Linked DNA regions of Homo sapiens. The protein of the gene in region 2 interacts with the protein of the main gene of each other region in a pairwise test. Each region holds a gene or a part of one and is shown on either strand. Other genes may lie near its edges. The genes, in order: KRT17, TRIM69, FAM110A and HMOX2.

What was found.
Region 1: the proteins of TRIM69 (region 2) and KRT17 interact in binary tests that used the Homo sapiens proteins (3 or more experiments, as listed by UniProt).
Region 3: the proteins of TRIM69 (region 2) and FAM110A interact in binary tests that used the Homo sapiens proteins (3 or more experiments, as listed by UniProt).
Region 4: the proteins of TRIM69 (region 2) and HMOX2 interact in binary tests that used the Homo sapiens proteins (3 or more experiments, as listed by UniProt).

Annotation. Positions count from the first base shown.
Region 1 is NC_000017.11:41,621,576-41,629,623, forward strand, and holds the start of KRT17 (keratin, type I cytoskeletal 17), read right to left. Parts: upstream 3,001-8,048; 5' UTR 2,935-3,000; coding exon 2,503-2,934; intron 1,458-2,502; coding exon 1,375-1,457; intron 937-1,374; coding exon 780-936; intron 180-779; coding exon 18-179; intron 1-17. UniProt on the Homo sapiens protein: Type I keratin involved in the formation and maintenance of various skin appendages, specifically in determining shape and orientation of hair. Required for the correct growth of hair follicles, in particular for the persistence of the anagen (growth) state.
Region 2 is NC_000015.10:44,752,976-44,761,138, reverse strand, and holds part of TRIM69 (E3 ubiquitin-protein ligase TRIM69), read right to left. Parts: intron 6,240-8,163; coding exon 5,763-6,239; intron 4,772-5,762; coding exon 4,676-4,771; intron 2,527-4,675; exon of another isoform or gene 2,519-2,526; coding exon 2,285-2,518; intron 1,500-2,284; coding exon 1,477-1,499; intron 1,392-1,476; coding exon 1,267-1,391; intron 1-1,266.
Region 3 is NC_000020.11:842,552-846,777, forward strand, and holds the end of FAM110A (protein FAM110A), read left to right. Parts: intron 1-2,091; exon of another isoform or gene 2,092-2,156; 5' UTR 2,157-2,253; coding exon 2,254-3,141; 3' UTR 3,142-3,726; downstream 3,727-4,226.
Region 4 is NC_000016.10:4,500,002-4,508,164, forward strand, and holds part of HMOX2 (heme oxygenase 2), read left to right. Parts: intron 1-2,742; exon of another isoform or gene 2,743-2,958; intron 2,959-5,482; coding exon of another isoform or gene 5,483-5,523; coding exon 5,524-5,609; intron 5,610-6,893; coding exon 6,894-7,011; intron 7,012-7,711; coding exon 7,712-8,163.

The DNA.
Region 1 (8,048 bases), on a different chromosome or scaffold from region 2:
CCTGCAGCACCCCCCACCTTGCTGAAGAACCAATCCTCGGCATCCTTGCGGTTCTTCTCTGCCATCTTCTCATACTGGTCACGCATCTCGTTGAGGATGCGGCTCAGGTCCACGCCTGGGGCAGCGTCCATCTCCACATTGATCTCACCACCCACCTGGCCTCGCAGGGCGTTCATCTCCTATGGAAAAAGGGGATGTGGATGTGCGCATCTGGACCCATCCTGACCTCTCACTCCCAAGCCTTCCCCCACAAGGGGACCCCACTTCCCACAAGGACCCCTCCTTTGTTCTCCCTCTGCTCTATCTGACCCTCTAAATGATTTTTATTCATCTGCTCAGTATTGCCTCCACCATCAGACTCTATCTCCCCCATTAGACCAAGGACTCTCCAAAATAAAATCTAATTATTAGGCCTATGCCCCCAAAAGTTCCCCTCTAATTTCCAAGCTTCTATGTAGATGTTCAGCTTTGAGAGTTTGAAATGGGACAAGATTTCCTTACTTATCCCCCACCCTCATGAGGGAGGCAGGGTAGGTAGAGGGAGCCTCTGCAGGCCCCTGGGAGGTTCCTTGTGTACAGAGAAGCAGTGTGGTACAAAGAGGAGTCTGCCCTGCACACTGGACCCCAAGGATCAGGGCTCTGCAGACAGGGAAGCCCTCTAAGGTGACTAATCCCGGTGCACCTGCTCTGCTCTCTCCCACGGCCTCAGCCATTGCCCAGCCCCAGGGCTCTGCCACCCACTCCTCAGCATCTTTGACCTTCTGCCCCAGCCACCTCACCTCCTCGTGGTTCTTCTTCAGGTAGGCCAGCTCCTCCTTGAGGTTCTCAATCTGCATCTCCAGGTCGGCTCTGGCCAGGGTCAGCTCATCCAGCACCCTGCGCAGGCCATTGATGTCGGCCTCCACACTCAGGCGCAGGGCCTGCTCTGTCTCAAACCTGCCGTGGGAATCAGAGACTTCAGCCCAGGCTGCTTGGACCTGCAGATCCAGGTCCTGGCTGCTCACCTGCCTTCATTTTGCCAGGACTCTAAGGAGTTGGAAGGGCTGATGAGAGGGTCGAGTGGAAACGAATTCCAGCCCCGGGACCCCGGGACCATCACAGGGCCAGATCCCACGCCCACCAGCTTCCTTACTTCTCTCTGCCTCCCGCCTCCCGCCTCCCCTCCTTCTCTTCTATTCCCTGCCTAAGCTCAGCAACCTTCAGAACTGGCTGCCTTCACTGCATCCTGGACTAAGGAGTGGGGCTCCTAGGACTGCCCCACCCTGAGCTCCTGGGCCTTGCCACAAGCAACCAAGGAATCCTGGGGTCAGGAGGGGTACCCTGAGATCCTCCGCCAGCTGGCCCAGGCTGCCCAAGGCCACAGCTAGGACTCACTTGGTGCGGAAGTCATCAGCAGCCAGACGGGCATTGTCAATCTGTAGCAGGATGTTGGCATTGTCCACGGTGGCTGTGAGGATCTGAGGAGAAGGGAGAGTAGTCAGGTCATTGGATGGGGGTGGCTGAGCCCACACCAGGGTTCTGAGCAGATCTTCCTGCCTCAGGGCCTCTCTTCTCGCCCAGCCCCTCCCTTGCCCCGTGCTGTATTATTGGCAGAGGAGGGGCAAACAGGAGTCTGAAGGGCTGAAAGGTGCCTCTTCTTCCCCCGATACTCAGTACCCCACCAGACCCCCATGGCAGGCTCGGCCTTAAAGGAGAAGAGACAGCTGGCTGGGAGTATGAGGCAACCAGAAAAGAATGGGAAAATGTCCCCAGGGCAGAAGCTGTCCCAGAATTCTAGAACAAGGGAGGGGATGTGGGCAACCCCCTCGTTTTACAGTCAGCTAGAGGGTGCCCCTGACAGGCTCCCCCAAAAGGAGGCTAAAGGAGCCCTCATTAAAGAGTGGTTCCAAATCAAAAGTCAGGACCCCTCCTAATCCCTAACCCTGGGCGCCAGCCAGCAGCCCCGCCCCCTGGGGTTTGCTGAGCCCGTCTTAAGGGACAGCAGGAGGAAAGGAGAAGCCAGAAAAATCCCCAAATAAGGCACATCAGAGGCCTTCCCCACACTGAGGTCCCGCCCCCTCCTTTCTGCCTCCTCCTGCAGCAGGTGCTATCAGGAGCTCACTCAGACACCCCCACTCCACATCACCCAAAACCCCCTCCTGTTGACCCCTGCTCCAAAGGAGCAAGACACCACACATCCAGCAGCCCACGGGCCCAGCCCTCCATCTGCATCCTCCTGCCTCATCCTACAACCTCTCCAGGTGGCGGAGCTCCACGAGGGAGAAACTGAGGCTCCAAGGGGCTCCACAAGGCCTCTTTGTTCCTGACTCAGCTTGCTGTCCCCAGAAAAGGGGGATGTGAGCCACACAGGGGCCCCAAGGCAGGTTCCCAGAAGCTAAGCCACAGCCAAACCACCCTTGGCTCCCTGAGACCCTATGGCTGGACTCCAGGCCTTTGGCCAAGGCAGGAGTTGGGGGGAAGAAGTCATGCCCCCCGGAGACCCCTCCCACCAGCAGGCCCTACCTTGTTCTGCAGCTCCTCAATTGTCCTGTAGTACTGGCTGTAGTCACGGGCGGGCCCCGGGGCCTGCCTCTGGTACCAGTCACGGATCTTCACCTCCAGCTCAGTGTTGGCCTCCTCCAGGGCACGCACCTTGTCCAGGTAGGAGGCCAGGCGGTCATTGAGGTTCTGCATGGTGGCCTTCTCACCTCCAGCCAGCAGCCCATCAACACCCCCAAAGCTGCTGCCATAGCCACCACCAGAGCCAAAGCTGTAGCAGCTGGAGTAGCTGCTACCCCCGAGGGTGCTGCCCAGGCCGCCAGCAGATCCCAGCCTGCAGGAGCCGGCACCCAGGCCGCCAGACAGCCGGCAGGAGGTGCGGGACGAGCCGCCCCCCAGGCCGGAGGAGCCCTTGATGGAGCTGGAGGAGGTGAACTGGCGGATGGAGGTGGTCATGGTGGCGGCGGCAGGAGGCAGGCACACAGGAGAAGGGCTGGAGAGGAGAGGGGCCCCAAGTTGTGTAGGGCTGCCGGGGTTCGCCCGCTTCCTTTATAGGCCACCAAGTGGGCGTAGCGATTACAACAGGCTTGCTCCTCTGTTTCCATTCCCCTGGGCTTTCATCACCACTGGCCACCTGCCAGCTCCCAGGTGGCTGGGGGCCCCCTCCCCGCCCATCATCAGGAATTTGCCTCATTTCTCCAAATCCTCGTGCTGAGTGCCGTGCGTGTGCGTGCCTCTGGTCTCAGGCCCGTCACCTGTGATTCAGGCGGGCCCTCCAGCTATGCTTTCCCATGACCTAATACGGAGAAGAGGAGAAGGCAGGACGTCACCGTCCCCAGGCCCTCCCAGGCAGCCACCACCCCAGCCTGGCCCGCCTCAACCCTGTCTGGTGGGGAAATGGGTTGCAGTGTCAGCTGACCCCCCCGCCAAAGTTGCTGTCTTTCACCCCACACTGCTCCACCCACGGTGCTGGCCCCGGGGCTGGGTGCTGAAGAGAAAGAGGAGACCGAGAGCCTATCCTGCCTTGGAAACTGAGCCCAAACCCACCAGGCCCACCTCACAGCATAGAAATGCCATCAAGCCTCGGAGACCAACCCACATCACAGATAAAGAAATTGGGGCTCCAGAGGGGTGCCGTGTCCACACTGGCCCCTTCTGCAGAGCCTGACACCCAGGAATGCACTCTAGGGGCTACAGTTCCATCCAGTCAGCTTCTGACCCTGCCCCATCCCTAGAAATCCTTGCTAACCCAGTCTCTTCGTGTAAACCTTTCCCCAGGTTTACACTCCAGGCTGGGGTGGGCAAACAGGGGCTCAGCTATAGGATGGGGAAATGGTGGGCTGTGCCAACTGAGAGGGGGATGCCCCCTTCCACTCCCCTCACCCTTCTGTACCCCAAGAGACCTCAGGGTCAGGTGACGGGTATTTATCTCAGGTCTCAGCCCACAGGAAACCTAAAGGACATTGCCCAAGAAGAGGCTCTTACAGAGACCCCAGCCAGCCCCCTTCCCACTCCAGGCTCCCCAAGATGTGGCTCCTCAGGTGGGCCATGTGCCCCACCCCACAGCCCCACCCTGCCCTGCCCACCACCCCAAGCCCGGCCCTGGGTCCCAGGGTCCCGCCAGGCCCGCTGGGTGGAATGTGGTCATGTTTCAGACTGCCGATGGCTTCCACTTCCCAGACAGGCCCAGACGGCCCCGCCAGCAGCCGAGAGACATTCCTCAATAGCCCAGTGGCTGCCAAGCCACCAAAGCAAACAGGATGCCCCCTACGCGTACACGCACAGCGGCCACCCCGCCCCACACACACCCCGAGCTGGGGCAGAGCCGGTCTGGTTTCCTGGGCTGGCTGCGTCACTGCCATGCCCTCTCACTCATCAATGCCATGGACCACTCCTTCAGAAGCCCCTCCCCACCAAGCCCCTCTCCTTCTGCTCTTGAACCCGCCCTGGGCTGAGGCAGGGAGTGCTCCCCAACAGGCACCATCCTTGGAAAGTCTGTGTGGCCCTCCCAGGGACCAGCCACAGGTGACAGGGACTCAGGGGCTGATTCTTAGAAACTTTTCCCAATACAAGGGGCTGTCCCATCCCTCCACCCTTAATCTTTCCGCCTCCTCCCCTCTCATCTTTCCAGGAGCCCCAGGCCTGGATGGAGTGGGCAGAACAGATTGGCAGGTGACAAGCCCATACCCAAACACTCAATAAACTCCACCTCCCCCAGTCCCTCAGCCCACACTGCCCCAAACCAATGAGCAGATCAGATCACACGAGGCATTGAACTTGGAGCAAAGCTTTAATAGTAGGCACTGGACAAACCCAGGAGGCCTCCTCAGTGAGGGGCTGCAGAAAGTAGATACAGAAAGACAACAGGCCATGCACCGGGGCCCAGACGGACACTCGGGGCGTGGCAGTAGCATGCTGGGAGCTGGAGCTGATGGCTGTGCCGTGGCCCTCGAGGTGGGGCTGTCGCAGACAGAAAGGGGTCTCAGTGGGTGGAGAAGTGGACCTGCTCACAGAAGAAGACCACCTCTCCAACCTGGACTTCCTCCACGATGGCACACCTGGTGGCTGGTCACTGTGGCTGCAGGCGATGGAGGAGGGAGGCACAGGGAACATCAGGCAGGAGCTCTTCCCCCCGCCTGCCCCCGCGTCTGTGGTCCCCCCAGTCTCCCACACAGAAGGGTCCTCAGCCTCTCCCCTGCCTTGGGGTCCACACCGCAGGACAGGGCAGCTTCTTACCTTCCCGGGTGGGCTGCGAGGCCAGGGACAAGGAGTACTGAGTGGCCAGCCTGCAGGGAGAGAAGCACCCATCAGCCCAGGGATGCCAGCCAGCCCAGGCACCTGCAAGCACTGCTGGGGAGAAGTAGGCCCTGGCAGAGGAGGTTCCCCTAAATTGGTGAAAAATCACAGTTGGGAATGCACAGAAATTAGCGCAGGCCCAAGAATGAAAGGGCAGGGGTTCAGCACAGCAGGAAGAAGAAAAAGAAACAGCACAGCAGTAGGTCTGGCGGCACTCTGTGGCTACTCACCAGGAATTTACAAGGAGAAGCTGAGCAAGTGGTTTTTCCATAACCCAGAGGGCCCAACAAATAGACCCAATTAAAGCAGGAGAGACTGTTGTTAGACTATAGATGGACTTCACCATTTCCGGGGAGCAAAAAGCTGCAACGTGTGACTAAGCATGGAGACTCCGGGACACTCTCAGCTGAAGGCCTGATCACCCTTCCCAACTGCAAACCCAACCACCACCCACCTTGCTCTTCACCACTCACACAGTCATCAGAACCAGAAACCCAGGGCCATCAATGCCTGCTCCTTCATGTGTTCTCCCGACACTTACTGAGTCCTGACTGTGAGCCATGCTTACCCCGAGATCCAGGCATCCAGTCCCGCTGTTTTGAGCTATAACCTCTCTTCTGCGTGCACCACCTTCCTTCCCCTGCCCCACTACCCACCACCGCACGGGACTTCTCTGGCCAGACTCCCTGCTCCAGCCCCCTGACACATCTCTCTGGCCCCGCCCTGACCCCTCTGATCCATTTCTCCCTCTGCAGCCAGAGTGAATGTTCTAAAATCTCTTGATGTTCATTTCACTCTCCTGCTCCAAATCCCTCCATGGCTCCCCATTGCCTACGTGATCTAGTCCAGACGCTTTAACTTGGCATTCAAGGCTCCTCAGCCAGACTCCAGCCTGCATCGTCAGTATCACCTCCTGCAAACCCCAACAGGTTCCGACATTCACACCTCCTGAATTTCGCTGGTGCTCAGACACCAACTTCTCCCTGGGTGAAGCGGGCCCCCAGCCCACCCCAACAGGCACCCTGGTACACACTCACTGGGCGTCCTCAACCTCCAGCAAGCGGCGGTAGGTGGCGATCTCCTGCTCCAGCCACGTCTTCACGTCCAGAAGGACCTGTGCTTGTGGTCCTGGTGCTCCGTGTCGCAGCAGAGCTCGCACAGCTGCTGCTCCATGCTTCTGTTAAGCCCCTGCAGCTGGGCCGGCAGGGTCCTGTAACACACCTCCATCTCCACCAGGCTGCCCTCCAGCGATGCTTTCTGTGGGCCAAGAGATAGGTGGTGTGATGAGCTGGACCTGGGACCCTTCCCCATGGCAGAGCACTAGAGAGGAGCCCCTCCTGTATGGGGCTGTGGGTGCTGCCAGCACAATGAGGTGGTAGTGCACCCAGCCACTGAGTGTGAAGGGACAGGCTGGGTGGGGACTCTGGTTCCCCAAGCAGGGGTCTACAAGGCTGGGCTCACCCTGGGGTGACAGGTACAGGGTGGGGAGGGGACAGAGACCCTACCTTGCTGAGCTGGGACGGCTCAGGTTCTGCACAGAGACGTAGAGCTCCATATCTCTATCCAGCCACTCTGCAGGGCCTCTGTGTTGGTGGCCACCTCGCAGTTCAGCCCCTCTTTCTGGAAGGCAGAGTGGGCCACAGGGGTTTATGGAGACTTTCAGAAGCGGGGCACAGGAAAGGGCTGCTCCTGAACCCTCACCTCCCAGAACCATCCCCTAGCCCCTCCCTGGCCTCTATGGGGCCCCAAAGGCACCTGCACACAGAGAGCCTCTGCACCCACATTGGAACTTGGAGGAATTCAGCCTGCTCTGCGGTCATTTGCATTTCTTTTTCCTACTGAACTGCAGCACCTCAAAGACAGGCACTGGGTGTTATTCTTTTGCGCCTGTTGCTGTCCCTAGGATACCGGAGATACTCAGCCTGTGCTTGCCAAGGGTATACATATGTATTCAAATACGCACATCCTGTAAACAGCTGTGGTGGAAACCCAAGACCAGACTTGTAGAGACCTGGATCTATTTTGCAGGCCACAGTGAAGGGCTGTGTGAGCTTGAGTCCTCTCTGAGCCTCACGTTTTACATCTAAAACATGAGGGGCTGGTCCAACTGGTTTCCAAAAGTCCTTCCAACTGGGACAGCCTGTGGATCTGCCAGTGCTCCAGCTGCACCAGCATGCAGCACATGTGCCCACACGTGTACACACCTGCTTACGCACGGCCACCCACCATGCTGAAGAACCAGCCCTCGGCATCCTTGCAGCTCTTCTCCACCAATGTCTTGTCCTGGTCACGCATCTCATTCAGGATGCAGCTCAGGTTCACTCCAGGCACAGTGTCCATCTTCACACTGACATCCTCATCCACCTGACCTCAAAGGACGTTCATTTCCTGGGCAGAGAGGACAGCAGAAGCTCACCCAAGGCCATCCTGGAGAAAGACCCTGGGGCCTGCCTTCTTTCCCTCGGAGAGACAGGTACAGATGACAGACAGACAGACACAGATAGGCCAACAGCTCCTCACCCTGAAGGTGGAGGTGGATGTTGTCATTTCTCAAACATACAGGGCTGTGAATATTAGCAACCTCCCCCAACACACACCGTGACGCGGGACTGGAATTCACCCATCCCCAACAAGTGCTAAGCCCCGAGAGATGACAACCCCCCAGCACGGTGGAGGATGACCACGGGCGACCTCACTCACTGCCCTGACCTTGCCCCCACCACTGCCTTGCCCCCACCACCAAGCCCACAGCACAGGCATGCAGAAAGCAACCC
Region 2 (8,163 bases):
AGACCATCCTGGCTAACAGGGTGAAACCCCGTCTCTACTGAAAATATAAAAAAATTAGCCGGGCATGGTGGCAGGCGCCTGTAGTCCCAGCTACTCGGGAGGCTGAGGCAGGAGAATGGCATGAACCCTGGAGGCAGAGCTTGCAGTGAGCAGAGATGGCACCACTGCACTCCAGCCTGGGCAACAGAGCGAGACTCCATCTCAAAAAAAAAAAAAATTATGCTAAGTGAAAAAAACCAGAAGACACAAAACACTACATAATGTATGCTATCACTTAGACAAAAATTTAGAAAAGACACATTTAAAGTGAAATAAAACATGTCAGTGAATGTTAGAGGCTGAGAGTAGAAGGAAGAGATTGATTTCAAAGGGGCATGTAGGAACTTTTTGGAGTGATAAAAATCTTCTATATTTTGATTATGGAGAGGTTTACCTAAGTGTATATATACATCAGAACTCATCAAATTGTGCCCTTAAAATTGGATAATTTTACTCTATGTTAACTATATCTCAGTATAGTTGATTTTTCTTCAATGTCAATTACCTGGAAAAATTTGCGATTTTTCATTAAATCAGGGATATATTTGTGATTTCTCATTAAATCAATAACCATAAACAATAATAATAATGATGAGTCTATGAATTCTATAAAAACTCTATTTAGAATTTTATTTCTATAAAGATTTTTATTTAGAACTTTATTTGATGTTCTTGAAATGCCATGTGTGTTATTTTATCTTGCTCAGTCCTTTGGTATCTACAGGAACACAAAAACTTAGTGTCCTTCTTAGGTATGTTTATTTAAATTATTGGTTTTCTTCTGAAGCACTGAAGATCTAAACAATCTTCTAAAATGTTCTACGCTATGAACATCAAGCACAAAAGAAACTGTAAAGACCCAGTGTACATAAAAAGAGTATGTTCAGAAACCTCCTCCTTCTTCAGAGAAGCCCCTGGGATTCATATAGCTGATTTAGCAAAACAAGATAAAATTTTGGCTGTTGCCACATTTCATAAATCAGTCAAAATCATATGCTAAGAAGTAATCCTGATATCAAACTCATATCTATTTACCAGCACAAAGTCATAAATTCTTAGGTCATGGTACTAGAAGAAATTCAGTCATACCAACTAGCCTCCTTTTGGCCAAACTGTACCCCTTCCCTATCCCAGACTGTAAAAACTTAATTAGGGCCACAGAAGAAGTCCCACAGATTAAACGTAGATTAGGAGCCTCAAGAACCAATAGTTACTACCCACTGATACCTGGGCAGAGAGTGTCCTGCATTTCCCTCCATACCATGTACTGGATAGGACCTTTGTACTGGCCCAGGTTCAGCTTTCTGGAAATAAGCTCTCTGGTTGCCAGCACCTTCATTCCTTGCTCCAAGCTGCAGGGCACATAAATCATTTATCCTTAGACATCCTCCAGAGACTCAAGGAATGATATTAATAGTACCATAGGGAAACACTTACCTATGTAAGAGAGTTGTGATGTCCTAGAAGAAAGGAGAAAGAGAGACATCAGATGCCCGTTCATCAACTCTCAAAATTTCTTTGGTGATACCAGCCACCACCAGAATTTGTGCAGATGGTCCCGAACTCATCTCTACCAACTTCTTTCATCCTTCATACACTTTTTCTAATCTTCATCCCTGATCCTAACCCAGGTTAAATTGATCTTTTGCTCTTTCTAGAGTTCTCTTCTACAGGGAGCAAGACAGAAGCCAATAAGACAATACTTAAGGTTAAGCTATCTTTACCTATACTTTCAAATAGTCTCAGAAGAAAAACACATTAGGTATCCCAGTCCCAAGGCCACTTTTCCTTACTCTAGCTAATTAAACTTCTGAGTGCTGAGATGGTAACCAACGCTTCTTTAGAGGTGAAGCTTAAGAAAGCAAAGGTTAGAAAACAGCTTTTCAGACAGGTCAGCTTATGATTGCTGAGAGCCAAAGATACAACTCAGGCTGCAACATTTTTATTTTTGAGAAATAAAGCATCAAGCTCTTTATGGAAAAATATTAAACCATTACTATATACTATTATTAATGGAATTTAAAAATCGTATTTCCTAAGAGGATGAAAGTAAAGCTTTCTGCTGTGCGTATAGCTGAAGCAGCCTCCTCCTTTTCTTCCAGAGAATCTTAAAAGCACTATAACAGTTTTGTTTTGTTTTGTTTTGTTTTCCCTGGATGTGAAAAGCCACTTCCGCATTCTTTCCAAACCTCTTCCCCCCTCTAGGTAGGAAGGTACCCATAATCATATTGGTGTGGATTCTCACTTTGAGAAAGTCGAAGGAGTTCTGTTGTTCCGTCTTTGCCTGAATGCTCACCAACATATCCTTGGCTAAGAGACATTGCTCCTGAAGCTGGCTCAGATTCAACTCCATCTCCTCATTCAAGGCTTTCCCCTCTTCCCGGAGCTCAGTTAAAATGTCCTTTTCTTTGCTGTGCAGGAACTGATGCAGCTTTAGAAACTCCATGGACACATGTTGCTGCAGATGTAGCTTGTTTTCCTGGAAACCTCCATGATTATCACCATGGTTATTGCAGAGACTAGTGCTTGGGGATGGGGGCCCACACCACCAACACTCACACACTTGGTAAATACCATCACAGAAAAATGCATACAAATGGCTACTGAATATCAAATTCAGTCATACTAAAATGAGTCCTTTGGGAGACTTACTCCTTTTCCAACTAATTTAATAGTTCAGGATGAAATAGGCAAAAGTGACCTCCAGTTTCCTATTGCAGTACTGAGATGGTAACCAATGCCATATTAAATAAGACTGTGGAGTTAGTCAAACATTCTAGAATGAAAGATAATACCCTCCTAGATTGGTAATCCAAAAGCTGCCAAGTGGTACTGTTAGACTGGGGGTATTGGGAGGCTGGAAGAACTGTCCTTACCTAGAAATCAGAACTGGGGGAATGCCACTGTTACACTTGCAGCTTTTTCCTTGGGTTACCTCAACATCCTCACAGTTAAACTATTTGACATCCTGGCTTCTCAGTTCCTCATTCTCCTCATTTCTAGTGATTTCCACATTTATTGATTCATTCCTATAGTCTCACCTAGGATTTTATCACCCCCAGCAATTGTATCATCTCCAAAATAACTTTTTATGCACCAGGCTCACTCAGATACTCCTATTGCAACAATTATTGGATCTCATTGAAACCTCCTATTCACCGATCCCTCCATTTCTATTCAGGAACTTCTACCTTCATGTCCTCTCTTATCTAGCTTGGATCCCATGGTCCATAATTATTATTGCACCTTAAGATAGTCTTGGCTGGGCACAGTGGCTCATACCTGTAATTCCAACACTTATAGAGGCCAAGCTGGGAGGATTGCTTGGAACAGGAGTTCAAGACTGGGCAACATAGTGAGACCCAGTCTCTCCAAAAATAAAATAATTAGCCATGTGTGGCAAACTAGTCCCAGATACTCAGGAGGCTGAGGTGGGAAGATCTCTTGAGCCCAAGAGTATGAGGTTACAGTGAGCCCATATCCACCTCATCAATATCATCTTGCTTAGCATGTTCCAGCTTTATTGGCCTTTTCTCTGTTTAACATAGCAGCTAACTTTCCATCTCAGGACTTTTCCAGATACTCTTTTCTATTCCTAGAACATTCTTCTCCAGGCTACCTCCTTCATATCCCCACTCACCCAGTTCACTTGGATAAGTTACTTATCCTTCAATTCTCAATTTTTAATGTGACTTCTTCAGAGAACACCCCTCCCCCAGTCTAGATTATGTTCTCCATTTATATGCTATCATCATACCCTATACTTTCAGTTATAGTACTTATCACAGTTGTTATTTTATTATTACTCATGGGATTATTTAATTAACAGCTGTCTCCCATCCCCAATATCTAGTATTATGCCTGACCCACTCAATAAATATTTGTTAAATGAATGAATGAATGCTCACACTAATAGGAACTTTTACAAAAGGAACAAGATTTTCTGAAGACATCATTACTTCCATATATCCTTCTTCTTTCCCTGAGTCTGCATATTTTTTTCTTCCAGATGCCAAATACCTGAGAAGGCTCTTCTCCATAGAATAATGAATAAAGAAACAGAACTTCCAATTTAGCACCCCCAATCTAGGGACTGATTTGCCAAAGCTCTAGCCATTAATGTTGTCCTAGAGTGCCTATGAAGTTGAAAGTGCAGACAATAGCTTTATTTAGCTTGGAGGAAGCTAAGAAGATCAAATCAGCTGGGAAAAGCCTATGACCTTAGAGACCTAGTCCAGAGGTGTCTGGTTATAAACTCAAAGGAAATAAAGGTATTTCTTTGGACATAGCAATCTTTAGTGATTGATTTTTTTCTAATAAGTTCCTTTTTTTTTTTTGCCATAGATAAAGCCAAAGACCAGACACATTTCAACGCCACGACAGTCACCTGGTGACTGAACTATCGAAAAGATCAGCATATTAGGGGAAAGGTTAATCTGCTCTGTTGATCAGCTATTAGGAACCTACTCCACCACCATATTCCTTTCCACCCTACAGACTCAGTTTTCCAATTCCATAGCCTAGGTACCATTTAGTGTGTAGATAATATATGTTAGGCACCTTTGTACCCATAGCTGAAGTTACATGGAGGGTGTGTTCCAGTTCTATCTCATAACCCCTCTTTCTTGCTCCTCACCTTGTGAGCAGCAATAGCTTCCTTCTGCATGTTCCTCAGGGTCTGAAGCTCCTTCAGAGTTGTCTCCAGTTGACCCTGTTGGATGGCAAGCTCCTCCTGGGAATATCAAATAGAATTAACCCAGACTAACTCGGGAGATGAAGGACCATAAAGGACATCTTCCCCAAGGCCCCAGTGTGCAAGAAAAAAGCAAGCTCTTGCTGCAAAAATCTTCCCCTTCCCCTGTATCATAGTTCTTGTCTCGTTCAAGAATTGTGAAAAAGAAAAGAAAAGGCCGGGTGTGGCAGCTCACATCTGTAATCTCAGCACTTTGGGAGACTGAGATGGGAGGATCACTTGGGCCCAGGAGTTTGAGACCAGCCTGGGCAACATAGTGAGACCCATCTCAAAACAAAGAAAAAAAAAGAATTATGGAGTAAATTACAGCTTAAAACTTAGTTTTTCTCTCTTAGTAGCTAGCTACAGGGATTTGAAGAAGGGAATAGAACTCTACACATTTTCCACTCTAGTTATATACTGTTCTCAGCATCTATCATTTTACTTGTGTTGTTCTCACTTGGAACATTTGTTTCTTCCTTCTGCCCTTCAAAATCCAAATGATTTCCCAGTTCAAGTCCTTTCCCTTTCTTTCACTATATGTCCCCTATTTCATTTTTCTCTAATAGTCTCAGAAATTCTAAACCCTTAAGAATTACAAATGTGACAAAATTTAACTTTTAACACGAGGCTATCTTAATATTGCTTCTGTTGTTTTCTTCATTTTAAACTTAACCAAATTTTGAATTTTTTATAACAAGAGCAATATCTTATCTATCCATATTCTACACAGTGTTTAGCAGAGTGCTACCATGGCAGAGTTTAGGTACAGATTTGATTGAGGGAGTAAGCCAGGGCTCCTCCACTGTTCCTTTCCTATAAGCAGCAACTCTAGAAAAAGAACTTTGCAAGATACGTTGTACTTTCTGAGCAGTCTGGGCTTTCTAATCATCATTTGAATAAAGGGATGGGGTTGGAAGAAAGAAGAAGCCCTATGAAATATTTTTCCTAGTTTTTCTAAGGGATTGTTCAAGGCCCAGGGCTCACCCACCGTGAAGAAATGGACAGCATCAGAGATTTGCAGGAACTCCTTAGACTGCCCCACAGACAACCGAGCATCCTTGCATTGAAAGCAGATCAGTTTCCCATCTGGTTTACTGAACAGTTTCAGGTTCTCTCCATGCTCTGGGCACTGTGGATGGCCCTTGAGTAAGGGTAACTTCTTAATCTTCTCTACCAACTTGTCCAGTACAGGGTTGAATGTACAGTTGTTATACTGACATAGCATCTTACACTCAGGACAGAATGTTTCCTTTGCTTGCAGCCTCCAAAAGTCTTGGATACAGGCTTCACAGAAGTTGTGGCCACAGCTTAGCATCAGTGGGTCTCGGAACCAATCATTGCACAGAGGGCAGTGTAGCTCCATAGTAATATCTTGTATCACCACTTTAGAGGGTAGGTGGGTGATTGAATCATTCATTTCAACATAGTCGCCTGGATCGATGTTGGAGGAGGGGTTGGTGGATACCTTTAGAAAAGAACAGCTAAAATGAGTTTATCTTTCTTGTTGCCCATTTTAACACTCCAGGATGATGGCGCCATTCCTAAAGGAGCTGAAAATTGGTACAACTAAAGTAAAAGCACATAATCTCTCCTTTGAAAGTGAACCAGTAACTTGAGTGTTTTCTGAAATTATAGCGTATGATGCTATTTAAACTTTAATAAAGAATCAAGGCAGAGGAAGAAACAGTACTAAATCAAAGAAATGTACTTTGTTGTACATCTCTCTCTTTACCCACTTTCCCCAAGTGTCTTTTGAAAGTTTTATTTTTCAACTTCTGCTCTACTAGTTATTACCTTTATTTTATTTTTGTTTTCTAGAAATTATATACAAAGAATTGGAAAATCAATCAGATTCCTTAGTCAGTAGTGTGATATCGTCAACCATCCAGGGTCCCCTTCACTCCTTTTTAAAAAAACACATTTCAGGCCAGGCGCAGTGGCTCATGCCTGTAATCCCAGCATTTTGGGAGGCCAAGGCGGGCAGATCACGAGGTCAGGAGATTTAGACCATCCTGGCTAACACAGGATGGTTAGCCATCTCTACTAAAAATCTCTACTAAAAATACAAAAATTAGCTGGGTGTGGTGGCAGGCGCCTGTAATCCTAGCTACTTGGGAGGCTGAGGCAGAAGAATTGCTTGAACCCAGGAGGCAGAGGTTGCAGTAAGCCAAGACCACGCCATTGCACTCTAGCCTGGGCAACAACAATGACACTCCATCTCAGAAAAAAAAAAAAAAAAAGGAATGACCAACAATGAACTGAGCCTAAGAGATCCACAAGACACTATCAAACAGACATAATAAGAATTTCAGAAAGAAAGGAGAAAAATGCAGAAAGAATGTTTGAAGCAGCCGGGCACTGCGGCTCAAGCCTGTAATCCCAATACTTTGGGGTGCCGAGGCAGGTGGACCACCTGAGGTCAGGAGTTAGAGACCAGCCTGGCCAACATGGTGAAACCCTGTCTCTACTAAAAATACAAAAAATTAGCTGGTCATGGCGGCAGGCACTGGTAATCCCTGCTACTTGGGAGGTTGAGACAGGAGAATTGCTTGACCTGGGAGGTGGAGGTTATAGTAAGCTGAGATCACTCCACTGCACCCCAGCTTGGGCAACAAGAGTGAAACTCTGTCTCAAAAAAAAAAATTTTTGAAAAAGTAATGGCTGAAAACTTCCAAAATATGATGAAATTTTACATCCAAGAAGCTCAACAAACTCCAAGCAGGATAAATTCAAAGAGATCCACAATGAGACACATTATAATTGAAGTGTCCAATGACAAGGAAGGAATCTTGAAAGCAGCAAGAGAGAAATGACTCTTCACATACAAGGGATTCTCAGTAAGATTACTAGCTGATTTCTTTTCAGAAAATATGAAAGCCAAGAAGGAGAGAGATGACATATCTGAACTGCCGAAAGAAAAAAACTGTTAACTAAGAGTTCTGTATCCAGCCAGGCACAGTAGCTCACACCTGTAATCCCAACACTTTGGGAGGCCAAGGTGGGCAGATCATTTGAGCCCAGGAACAACATGGCAAGACCCTGTTTCTACTTTTTTTTAATTAAAATTTTTTAAAAATAAAGAATTATATATTCATGAAAAGAGGAATTAAGACATTCCCAGATAAACAAAAACTGAAGGAGTTGTCTAGTAGTCTTAATCTACAAAAAATGCTAGTAGATCTGCTCTAGAAGAAATGCTAAAAGGAGTCCTACATGTTGAAATGAAAGGAAACTAGGAAGTATCTCCAAGCCATATAAAGAAGTAGAGACCAGTGAAAAAGTAGCTACATAGGTAAAGTCCAATATTGCAGTTTTTGGTTTCTAACTCCTCTTTTTCCCCTATTCAATATAAAAGACAAATGCACAAAACAATAGTTATGTGTGTTAAT
Region 3 (4,226 bases), on a different chromosome or scaffold from region 2:
CCCATCCACTCCATCTCTCCTGCCTTGGGAGCAGCACCCAAGGATCTATTCCCAACTCATGGCTGCTGCAGAGGTCTCCAGCTGGTGGTTGGGGGCCAGATGGAGGAGGAGGGGACAGATATGTTCGCAGACATATTTTGTTTGCTGTATATGCAATGTTTTAATCATTATTATCGAATATGCTGACAGTTAAGAATCTAGAGTTTTTATGTACTCCTGGATTTCCAGCTTCCTGGAACAATACACCTACCACCTTGGACCCATATGCCTGCAGCAGGCAGGGTACCTAGATGTCTAGTTCATCCCTGATCACCCAGTTCACATCTGGCTCCCATAAATATTTCAGTTCAATAAATTTTTATTGAATATTCTGCCCTAGTATGTGTCTAGGGCAGTATCTTGAAACTGGGGTATAGTGAACAAAATAGCCAACCCCCGCCCCTACACACACACGCCTGCCCTCATGGAGCTGATATTTTAGGGGGATAGAGACAACAAAGAGTAAAACAACCATACACAAATAGAGTACTTGTGCAGGGGATAAGGAGAAAAGGAATAGTGCCGGGAGGGGGTCAGGAGTGCCGGGGAGAAACAGGACGTGGTATTGAGATCAGTGCCTTATTTATCTATTCTGGGACCTGGGAAAGCCACTTCTCTGAGTCTCAGTTTCTCCATCTGCACAACGACCCACAGGCTTGTGGGAGGTTATAGGGAGGATGGCACCCAGCAGAGATCCCTGCCTCCCCACCCCAATCCAGACTCACTCCCTTCTGGATTTTTGGATGTCTAGGTGGGGCTGTCCAATGTAGCTTCCTACCATGGATGGAAATGCTGTACTCTGTGCTGCCAAACACAGTGGCAACTGGCCACATGTGGCTATTGAGAACTTGAAATGCCACTAGTGTAGCTCAGGAACTGAATTTTATGTTTTTATTTCATTTAAATTTAAAGTTAAGGTTGAATAGCCACATGTGGCTGCTGGCTATTGAGCTGGACAGCACGGGTCTAGATGGCTTGAACTGTAAGCCTTCTTGGGGAACACCCAGATTAAGTACCCGCCCCCTCCATTTTACAGATGAGAATGTTTGGGACTTGGTATGTGGGTTTTCTTCTGTCCCATCTCCAAGGGGCCTTGTGGGGTGACTCTGTGGGCTTGGCCCTTCCTTGGAAACAGGGTCAGGGTTGGCTTGATGTCTGGGGCATCAGGTCCTGACACTTGGGTGACCACGTAGACACTTGTGCATCCAGGTGTATGCCCTCCTCCCAGGTGAGTACCCATTCCATGGCTGCAGGCAGATCGAGGGTCTGCCGGATGCCTCCATGCAGGGCTGTGTGATTTTGGACATTTCCAGCTTCTCTCAGCACAGCATAGCTCAGGGCTGATGTTTCCACGTGACAGGCATTTGTGGATCACCGTGGGCCATCCAGTTCCATGCAGGAAGCTGACGGATGTCTGGACTCCACTGGGGCGCGGGTGGAGATTTTCTTTGCTCCTTCCCTATAAGCTCTGCCCTTTGCCTGGGGCCTGGCATGTCTAGGCGGGTGGATGGCACAGGGCAGCTTCCTGCCTGGATGGGTGAGGGGTAGAGGTGGTACCAGGCTCCCTGTGGGGAGTCCAGGTGGGGTGTGGGGCTGGAGCCCTTTTTCTTGGTCATTTAACCCTACGCCCCGGTGCCAGCACCTTCCTTTTTGGTGGTCAGGGGCAGAGCCACCTACTCGCTGGGTTAACTTAAGCAAGTTGTTTGCCTCTCTGGGCTTCAGTTTCTCCATCCAAAAAACGGGGCTGTTGAGAGGACCTGAGGTTGAGTTGACTGGTGCGTAGCACAGAGCCTGGAGCCTCCCTTGCTCCCTTTAGCGCGTGCCTTGCCCTGTCTTTTCTGCTCAGGTTGCCCAGGTCGCCCAGGTCTTTTTTCTCTAGCACCTTTTTTCCTCTCTTGGTCTCAGCTGGGCCTGGTTCTCCCGGGGCAGGAGGGAGGGGGTGTGGGTGGGGCCTGAGGCCCCGCAGCTGCTGCCTTGTGCCTGCTGATTGGCTCCTTGTGGAGGGGCGTGGTCTCTACCTTATAATAGGGAGGGCGTCTTATCCTCTCAGCCGCGGCTGAGCCTCTTTGTCTGAGCGCGCTCGGCTTTTTTTTTTTTTTCTCTCTCCTTCCCTGCAGCAGTGGCCGGTGTCCAGCTGCCTACTTTCTGCCCGGATCTCTGGCTCCTCATCTCTCCGGTCTCCGCAGACTAAAGCCCTCGGGATATGCAGCAGCCATGCCTGTGCACACGCTGAGCCCCGGAGCCCCGTCCGCCCCCGCCCTACCTTGCCGCCTGCGGACCAGGGTCCCTGGCTACCTGCTACGGGGGCCGGCAGATGGTGGAGCCCGGAAACCGAGCGCTGTGGAGCGCCTGGAGGCCGACAAGGCCAAGTACGTCAAGAGCCTGCACGTGGCCAACACCCGCCAGGAGCCTGTGCAGCCCCTGCTGTCCAAACAGCCGCTCTTTAGCCCTGAGACTCGCCGCACAGTGCTCACGCCCAGCCGCCGAGCCCTGCCTGGCCCCTGCCGACGGCCCCAGCTGGACCTGGACATCCTCAGCAGCCTCATCGACTTGTGTGACAGCCCCGTGTCCCCTGCCGAGGCCAGCCGCACTCCTGGACGGGCCGAGGGAGCCGGCCGTCCTCCCCCAGCCACCCCTCCGCGACCGCCGCCCAGTACCTCTGCGGTCCGCCGGGTGGACGTCCGCCCCCTGCCCGCCTCGCCTGCCCGGCCCTGCCCATCACCCGGCCCTGCCGCCGCCTCCAGCCCAGCCCGGCCGCCGGGTTTGCAACGCTCCAAGTCGGACTTGAGCGAGCGCTTTTCTAGGGCAGCCGCTGATCTCGAGCGCTTTTTTAACTTCTGCGGCCTGGACCCGGAGGAGGCGAGAGGGTTGGGTGTGGCCCACCTGGCACGGGCCAGCTCGGATATCGTGTCCCTGGCAGGGCCCAGTGCTGGGCCGGGCAGCTCTGAAGGGGGCTGCTCCCGCCGCAGCTCGGTGACTGTTGAGGAGCGGGCCCGGGAGCGCGTTCCCTATGGCGTGTCGGTGGTGGAGCGCAATGCCCGCGTGATCAAGTGGTTGTATGGGCTAAGGCAGGCTCGGGAGAGCCCAGCAGCTGAAGGCTAGGCGCCACTGGGCCTGGAATTCGCCACAGGACGGATCTTACAGAGGCAAGTGGTCCCTGGACCTCTCTTGCATCCATTCTCTAGACGGCCGTGTCAGAGGCTCCACCCTGTTGTGAACTTGGTATGGAGGCAAAGGCTTAGAGGCTGGACCAGCATTGTTGGGCAAGGACTGACTCTCCAAGGGTTTTGTTCTTGGCTTTGGACACCTGAGAACCCCCTCCTCCCCTCCCCCAATACAAGGTTTTTGACATGAGTGTACTCCTGCTTAGTTCCTCTTGTGGGGCTGCATTTGCGGTGCTTTGCCCTCCCCACTGTGAGTGAGGGGCCAAGGGATCTCCTCAATCCTGTCTCCCCAGCGGCTCTGTTTCCTCCTTCCTTCCTTGGCCTCTGTCCTTTGCTGACTTCCTCTTCCTTACCCAGCAGAACTCACCCTGGGGTCGGGGCAGTGGGGAGGGGCCTATCCACTGCTCTTCCTAGTCCTTGGCAGCTGGCCTAGGTGGGCAGACTATAGGAGGGACTGGTTAGGAGTCTGCATTGCTTTGACTTCCCTCTCCTTGGTTAATAAACACAAATGCTTGTTTCTCAAGGGCTGGGCCTTCAGACTCTTCTGTGTTCACAAGAGAAAGGGTGAGAGAAGTCTTGGGGTGGGGCCATCAAAACAGTAATTGTTCACCCCGAGGTCTAGTGGTGGGGCATGATGATAGCGGCTGGCCTGGCTGGAGACATGTCCCCGTGGTGGGTTCTCATAACTCTCCTGGAAGGCTAGCAGGCCTGCCTCATCGAGGAGGAAACTGAGATCCAGCCATGAGTGAGCTGGAATAGAGCTGGGAGTAGGAATGGGGTCTTTCCCCTGCACCAGAAAGGGAGCCTGCAGGGGAAAGGCCGATGGGGTGCATAGACTCTCCCCAACCAGGAGTGTTCCATCCAAGCCCTGCCCAGTTCCCAAGGGGGCAGGAAGCTCGGAGAGGGCAAATCCTGAACTTGAGGTCACACAGACCATAGAGTGAGGATGAGAAGTGGGAGTTTTGGAGGAAGAGAGACTTGGGGTGGACGGCACAAAATGAGTGGCCTCCCTGGCGATCTTGG
Region 4 (8,163 bases), on a different chromosome or scaffold from region 2:
GTGTATTTGCAACAGCTGTAACTCAGGTTGGATGCTCCCCAGGGTGCTGGCCTATAAGTCATATTGGACCCTGATCTGAATCTGAGGGAATCTGGATCTCTCTTGTAGGAAGCTTTTGGTTTAACTGGGAAGACAGGATGACAGTCAGTTGTGGAAGCTGAAGCGTAATCACCTCATATTAATATGGTGGCAATTTTATATCGGAGTGAGCTCTGAGCTGCAAACAGCCTTCTAGGAAGCAGGCAGGGGACCCCCATCCAGGGTGATGGTAAGAATCCTGATGCCCAACTGCAAGGTGTTCAGCAGGGAGGGAGCACTCGTGGAGTCCCAGTGCAGAAGTCTCTGAGCAGCCACTTAGCCTCCCTGTGTTTGTGGGGTAACAACCCGAGTTCATGTTGTGGGCATCTCATGCAGTGTAGTAGCTGGTCACTGTCAAGTGTCACTATTTCATTGAGTCAGAAGCCTGCAGAATTGTTCTCATTCCAGGGAGTGAGTCAGTCTGCTGTTGCTTACTCTCGGTGCTGGCTGAGCTCAGCAACCTGCTCTCTTCCTTCAGTTCAGGTTTCTCCAGGGCAAAGAAGTCTTTATTGTTCCTTTCTGTATGACCAGATGGGAAATGAATTATAATATAGTCCTTAGATTATATTCCCACCTGGTAGCAATGCACTGAGTTACCTGACCTGAAATTTGTTGGACTTAGTCTCCATGGAGGAGGATTTACCATCTTCGTTGTCTCAGAAGTCCTGGTAGTGCCTCATGCCAGCAATTTAGCAGGAGCAAAAGCTTTGAGACAGTGTTCTGGATCTGCTGAGCTGGTCTAAAGGAACCTCTTTTGCTTGAAGTAACTGTGATAGGAACTTTGTTACTGCTTCTGTTAGCTCAGGTGTTGGAATGAGAATCAGCAGCTGATGAGGTGAACAGCTAGGAGTACTGGAATTATGGAGTAGTGGAGGTAGATTTTATAAACAGAGGGTCCCAGTTTTTTGGAAATGGGAAAGAGAGAGGGTAGACTGGCCTTTCTAGAATTTGTAACAGAAAAGAGGACCCAGGAGCTTCCATTGACTAGTTAGTTAATGCAGTGCGGGATCTTAGCTGGTTTGCTTGGTCCAATTCCTGTCTCTCGGTTTCTTTTTTCCCTTCCCTTCGCTGCCTTCCCCTCCCTCTTCCCTTTTTCTTTCCAAGAGAATTGAGTCACTCCATATAAAAGAAGCAGCCAGTTGGCTAAAAAGTCCAACAAAAAACAAGTATTTATAGCTCTCCAAATTTCCCACTTGTCATTATCAGTATACTTTTGCACACAGTTATAGTCGGTGTTTGGGATCCTTTTTAAAAAAATAAAAAGTTTCTGTAGGCTTTTCCATGCATGAACACAGCTTATCAACTTGCCCCGGCTGTGCCAGGATTCCATTGTTGACTGTTGTTTGAGCAGTCATGCCCTTTGTTCTTAGGCTGTGTGTTGTTTTTTTCCTAACATCATAGTATGGCTGGGTATTATTTTGATACAGATTACAATTACTATTACTATTTCTTGAAGTGTATTTCCCAGAGTGGAATATTTTAGGATCTTTTTTTCTCTTTTGTGGGGGTGGGGAACATGTAGCTTCTTGTGGATATTAGACATTGAAGTCTAAAAAGGTTCTATATTTATGATTTGGCCCTCAATTTTCTAGAGATTCCAATGGTTCCTGCAAAGAAAAGAGCATTCAAGTATAGAAACCAGCCAGACTAAGTCTGGACATGTAGCTTTTCAGAAAGTGAAAAAAAATTATGTTTCTGCAGTTGCAAGGTGGCCTCTGAATGCCACACTGTGTGGCCACTCCCTTGGACAGTGGCTAGGCCACAGGGTCGCCTCCCCTGGCCCCAGTCTGTGGGTTGAATATGCTAACCGAGCCTTCCCAGGAGCCTCCTCTGCCCCCAGCCCCCAGGTCTGTACAGATGGTAGTTGGTACTTTCAGCCCGCCTTGAGAACTCAGTATTCTTCCTGTTAGCTTTCCTTCAAAGTAAAATCGGTAGAACCTATTTTGAGTGTAGAAAATTTGAAGTCGTGGACAGCAGATTACAAAAAATTGCCCACCACCATGCCTGGCTCATTTTTGTATTTCTAGTAGAGATGGGCTTTCACCATGTTGGCCAGGCTGGTCTCGAACTGCTGACCTCAGGTGATCTGCCCACCTCGGCCTCCCTAAATGCTGGGATTATAGGTGCGAACCACTGTGCCTGGCTCCTTTTTGTATTTTTCGGAGAAGCACAAGGACTTGTTGTTTAATTAAGCAAGACTATACTCTCCCAGAGCATGCAGTTATTATTGAGTAAAACACAGTTAATGAGATTTAATCACGTTCCCTATCACTGTTGTGCAGCATGATAAGTAGGTGCAAATGGCAAGAAGCACGCTGAAGTTACTGCAGTTGGTAACCTGGGCCATGGATGGCACTTGTCTTTGCCTCATTTTGCCTGTAAGAAGCATGGGGCCTGTGGTCCTGGGGTACCTGGACCCTCAGCCTGGTGTGTGTGTGCCCTCAGCCTGGTCCTTTACTTCCATCACCCATCTAGAGGCTCCAGGACCCTTTACTGCACCCCTCCCTCCTCTAGATAGCTCAGTGTTTTCATCCCAGCACCTTTTTCTCTGCTGCCTGAGAACTGAGCAGCCAGAGACAAATTTTGGCTCTCAGGGTCCTCAAGGGTGTACAGCAAAGCTGTTCTTATTATTTAAAGTATTTTATTTATTTATTTTTGAGACAGAGTCTTACTTTGTCGGCCAGGCTGGAGTGCAGTGGCATGATCTCGACTCACTGCAACCTCTGTCTCCCAGGCTCAAGAAATCCTCCTACATCAGCCTCCCAAGTAGCTGGGATTACAGGCTGGAGTGCAGTGGCTCCATCTCGGCTCACTGCAACCTCCGCCTCCCAGGTTCAAGCGATTCTCCTGCCTCAGCCTCCTGAGTAGCTGGGATTACAGGTGTGTGCCACCATGCCTGGCTAATTTTTGTATTTTTAGTAGAGACAGGGTTTTACCATGTTGGCCAGGCCGGTCTCGGACTCCTGACCTCCTGATCTGCCCACCTCGGCCTCCCAAAGTGTTGGGATTACAGGCGTGAGCCACCGCGCCCGGCTAGCAAAGCTGTACTTTTACCAAAAAAAAAAAAGAAAACATTTATAAATCAAGGTCTGAAGGCCCATGTGAGGCTTATTCTACAGCTTGCAATGCCTGTTTTTGCCCCTTGGTAAGTGGACGCACAGCTGGGCAGCCTTATGCTATCTCTGTGAACTACCCATTTCTGGCTTTGTTCATAATATTCCCTTGATCTGGAGGCCCTCCCCCAGCCCTGCCCCAAATCCTGTCTGTGTTGAGGGTCCTGCCCCAGGAAGCCCTCTGCATACTCTTCCCTGCATGTAATACCTGCCTGCTTTCACATTCTTCTAGACTGTGCTGTGCATCGTACAGTTCATCAGCATTATTGCAGAGTAGAGTGTCTCTGATTTGGAGTCAAGAGAAGGTTCCATTTTTCTGTACATCCCGATGTTTATTTTCTGAGTGTTCTCAGACATCACTAAGCCTCAGTCAAAATAAAGTATGATCATGATGTAACATTCATTGAGTGCTTATCACATGGTAGGCATTGTGCTATATGAGTTATTGCTTGACTTCCTAAAATAATCCCAGTAGAGATGCTAAATCTAAAGGTGAGAGAGATGGTTCAAAAAGACCTCAGTGAGCAAACCATGTACTATAATATCCTAAAAGATAACAAAAATGTAACTAGGTATCTAGAGAAAACTCAGGAAGGATATGTGCCTTGGGCCTTTTAAGGACCATTTCTTAACACTTCTGTGTTCTTCTTGACACCTGTTTCTGGGTAGAGCACATAGAAAATGCTCAGTAAATAAGTTCTTTTTCCTTGGCCCAGTTTGGCCTGATTTGGCCCCAGTTCTGTCTTTGTGAGTTACTTTATTAGTTGTCGGTGCTACTGTGCTGCTATTCATGTGGAAGATTCCCCAAATGGGCTGCGCCTTACATTGCCTGAGCAGAAGCCCCGAGGGATGGAGGATGAGCTTGCCTTGTTATGGGACTGTGTTTCCCTGGCTGACAAAGGCTCAGCATTTGCAGCAGGCAATGGGAATTGATTGGCCAACTTAATATTTCCTTCAGCCTAGCAAAGTCCTGAGTAGGCTAGGGACAGTCTGCTTTTTTGGTAACTCCTGTAGGCTGCCTTCTGCACAAGGCACCCAGCCTCTCACAGGTAGGATGAACTGGCCTCAGCACGCTTGCAGAGGGGTGGAACTGTGCGTTGCTTGCCAAGCTTTTTGTTTCCCTAAGGTTTTTGAGGTTTTCTTTGTTTTTGGTAACTTTCAATTTTTTTTTTTTTTTTTTTTTTTTGGACAGAGTTTCACTCTTATTGCCCAGGCTGGAGTGCAGTGGCGCGATCTTGGCTCACTGCAACTTCTGCTTCGTAGGTTCAAGTGATTCTCCTGCCTCAGCCTCCTGAGTAGCTGGGATTACAGGCACGCGCCACCACATCCGGCTAATTTTGCATTTTTAGTAGAAACAGGGTTTCTCCATGTTGGTCAGGCTGGTCTTAAACTCCTAACCTCAGGTGATCCACCCACCTTGGCCTCCCAAAGTGGTGGGATTACAGGCATGAGCCACCGTGTCTGGCCTAACTTTTAATTTTGATACGGTCTTTTTTTTTTTTTTTTTTTTTTTTTTAAGACAGTTTCGCTCTTGTTGCCCAGGCTGGAGTGCAACGGCGTGATCTCGGCTCACTGCAACCTCTGCCTCCTGGGCTCAAGAGATTCTCCTGCCTGAGCCTCCCGAGTAGCTGGGATTACAAGTGTGCACCACCATGCCCGGCTATTTTTTGTATTTTTAGTAGAGACAGGGTTTCACCATGTTAACCAGGCTAGTCTCAAACTCCAGTCTGCCTCGGCCTCCCAAAGTGCTGGGATTACAGGCATGAGCCACTGTGCCCTGCCTTGATACAGTTTTAAGCATACAGAAAAATGGTAAGAATAGTACAAAGAACTCTCATACCTCTTCCCCAGATTCACTGCTAGGATTTTGCCTTGTTTGCTTTTCTGACTTGCCAGTGTCCCCCACCCTGCAGCATATGCACATGCACACACACTGTCTTCTGAACCATCTGACAGGGAGTTGCAGGCAGTGTACCTTTACTTCTGAATACCCCAGTGTGTATTTCTTAGGAACAAAGACATTCTCTTATATAATCGCAGTACAATTATTTTTAAAAACCAGCAAGCTTAATGTCAATACAATGCTATTACCTAATACATTGTTCATATTCAGATTTTTTCCATATTCCACTATGGTCCCAGTAATGGCAGAGCTTTATTTTAAAGAAAACAATCCTGGGGTGTGTGGGTGTCACCTTGGTTACATTCGCTCTGAGGAAAGCAGAACCGACAGGTATTTGGGGAAGTGACTGCCGTGGGTGCCACATCACCAGCTCCTTGTGTCTCTGCAGGACCAGAGGAGCGAGAGCAGCAAGAACCACACCCAGCAGCAATGTCAGCGGAAGTGGAAACCTCAGAGGGGGTAGACGAGTCAGAAAAAAAGAACTCTGGGGCCCTAGAAAAGGAGAACCAAATGAGGTGAGCGATGGGGGCTGGCTGCACTGAATCAGGTGGGCCCAGCACCTGTCGTGCTCAGCACACCTGGTTTTGTCTGTTGGCAGCACTGGGGAGTGGCCATGGGCCATGAGCTCTGGACCCCTGGGTGCCTGCTTGGCCCTGCAGGGACCGCATACAGCTTCGGCTGCTTAGAACTCTCCCCACTGGTCCATTGTCTCATCCAAGGAGGCAGGGCAGGTGCTCCTGGGAGTGCTGATAGGATTTGATGGTAGTTATCCTTTTTTCTTTTTAAAAACTTGTGCGTTTCCTCATCTGGGCTGAGAAAGGGTAAACGCAGGCAAAGCTGGCTCTGTTCAGTCTTTTACCACATAAAAGACTGCAGGGCAGCCTTTCCTTACTCTGTATAGGGACAGCTCATGCTAAACCTGAGCTTCCAGGCCCTGTTCTGCATCATTAGCCTCTCATAGCCCTGTCATTGGCCAAGTTTTTTTTTTATCCCTTGAAATAATTGCTAATAATAAATTGATTCTCAGCACATGGATGATAACGAGCTAATCTCCTAAAGAAGACAGCAGAAGCCAGACCATGATAAGGCCAAATTTTTCTCACTCTTGTAGATGGATTGTGTGGACACATGTAAGCCCCTGCCCAAGTACCACCATCTTTAGGATCACATGTTTTCTACCTTGTCCATCCATCCACACACCTTTACAACTGTGTAATTTCGTTAAGCAGCACAAACCCAGCGTCCTGGCCCTAGCCTCTCGGTTGTCTCCTTTGCATCCTTCCGTGCTTGGTCCTAGTCACATATAGTCTCAAAGAAGCTGTGGGTCCAAGGTGGGAGGAAGGCAGTAGGGCCATCTGAGGAGACCCATGGTCACAGCCTTACTGAGGTGTGTGAATTCCAGAAGACACGTTCCAAGGCAGGCTGTTCTTAGAGAAGCCAGCAAATACTGAAGGGAATACAGATGTGTGTCTCTTCGACCACTAGGTGGCCACAGAAGCAAAGCATTGCTCATTTGGGTGGTTCCCAACACAGACACATGGACGTGGGTACTACTCTCAAGGAGCAGGCCACAGTTATCCCTTGTGTCCTGAGTCCTTGGAGCAGAATGTCATGTCTGCTTGTCCTGTGTTCCCTGACAAGTTGCTGCTATTTGTGTTGGAGTGAAGTGTCTGAGAAGCCCCAGCCTCCAGTACAACAGGTGGTCACCTTGGGGTGTGGACTCAATCTTCTCTCTATGGTCCTTTCTGGAAAGCTGGGAAGGGCTAATTGACACACAAACACCTCCCATCTCTCCACAGAATGGCTGACCTCTCGGAGCTCCTGAAGGAAGGGACCAAGGAAGCACACGACCGGGCAGAAAACACCCAGTTTGTCAAGGACTTCTTGAAAGGCAACATTAAGAAGGAGCTGTTTAAGGTTTGTGCCCCGCATTGGGTTCCAGACTGTCATATGGGGTTGGGGTGGGGGCCTTGGTCCCATGAGAAAAGTGCCCCTGGAGCCACTCTGAGGGAAAAGCTGGGCTTTTCTCCACACTCCATTCCTTCTTGACGTTAAGCTCTGGCTCTCGGCTGGGTACAGTGGCTCATGTCTGTAATCCCAGCACTTTGGGAGGCCGAGGCAGGTGGATCACTTGAGGCCAGGAGTTTGAGACCAGCCTGGCCAACATGGTGAAACCCTGTCTCTACTAAGAATACAAAAATTAGCCGGGTGTGGTGGCGCGTGCCTGTACTCCCAGCTACTTGGGAGGCTGAGGTGGGAGAGTCACTTGAACCTGGGAGGCGGAGGTTACAGTGAGCCGAGATCGTCCCACTGTACTCCAGCCTGGGTGACAGAGCGAGACTCTTTACCCCGCCAAAAAAAAAAAAAATTGGTTCTCATGGCTTAGATAGAATAACATAGTGGTGTGAAGGAAGCAAAAGTATGCGTGTTCCAAAGACTTCACCATGCCATTCCTTTAAGAAACAAAAGCTTCCTTGTGTGTTAAATAATTCACTACATAAAAATGGACCATAGGATTGGGTCTTTGGGGTTGGGGGTTGTCACTTGAGCCTCTGCATCCAGCTGCTCGGATGTGGTGTGCTCAGGCATAGCTGGCCTCCTCCTGTCACCTCCACAGCTGGCCACCACGGCACTTTACTTCACATACTCAGCCCTCGAGGAGGAAATGGAGCGCAACAAGGACCATCCAGCCTTTGCCCCTTTGTACTTCCCCATGGAGCTGCACCGGAAGGAGGCGCTGACCAAGGACATGGAGTATTTCTTTGGTGAAAACTGGGAGGAGCAGGTGCAGTGCCCCAAGGCTGCCCAGAAGTACGTGGAGCGGATCCACTACATAGGGCAGAACGAGCCGGAGCTACTGGTGGCCCATGCATACACCCGCTACATGGGGGATCTCTCGGGGGGCCAGGTGCTGAAGAAGGTGGCCCAGCGAGCACTGAAACTCCCCAGCACAGGGGAAGGGACCCAGTTCTACCTGTTTGAGAATGTGGACAATGCCCAGCAGTTCAAGCAGCTCTACCGGGCCAGGATGAACGCCCTGGACCTGAACATGAAGACCAAAGAGAGGAT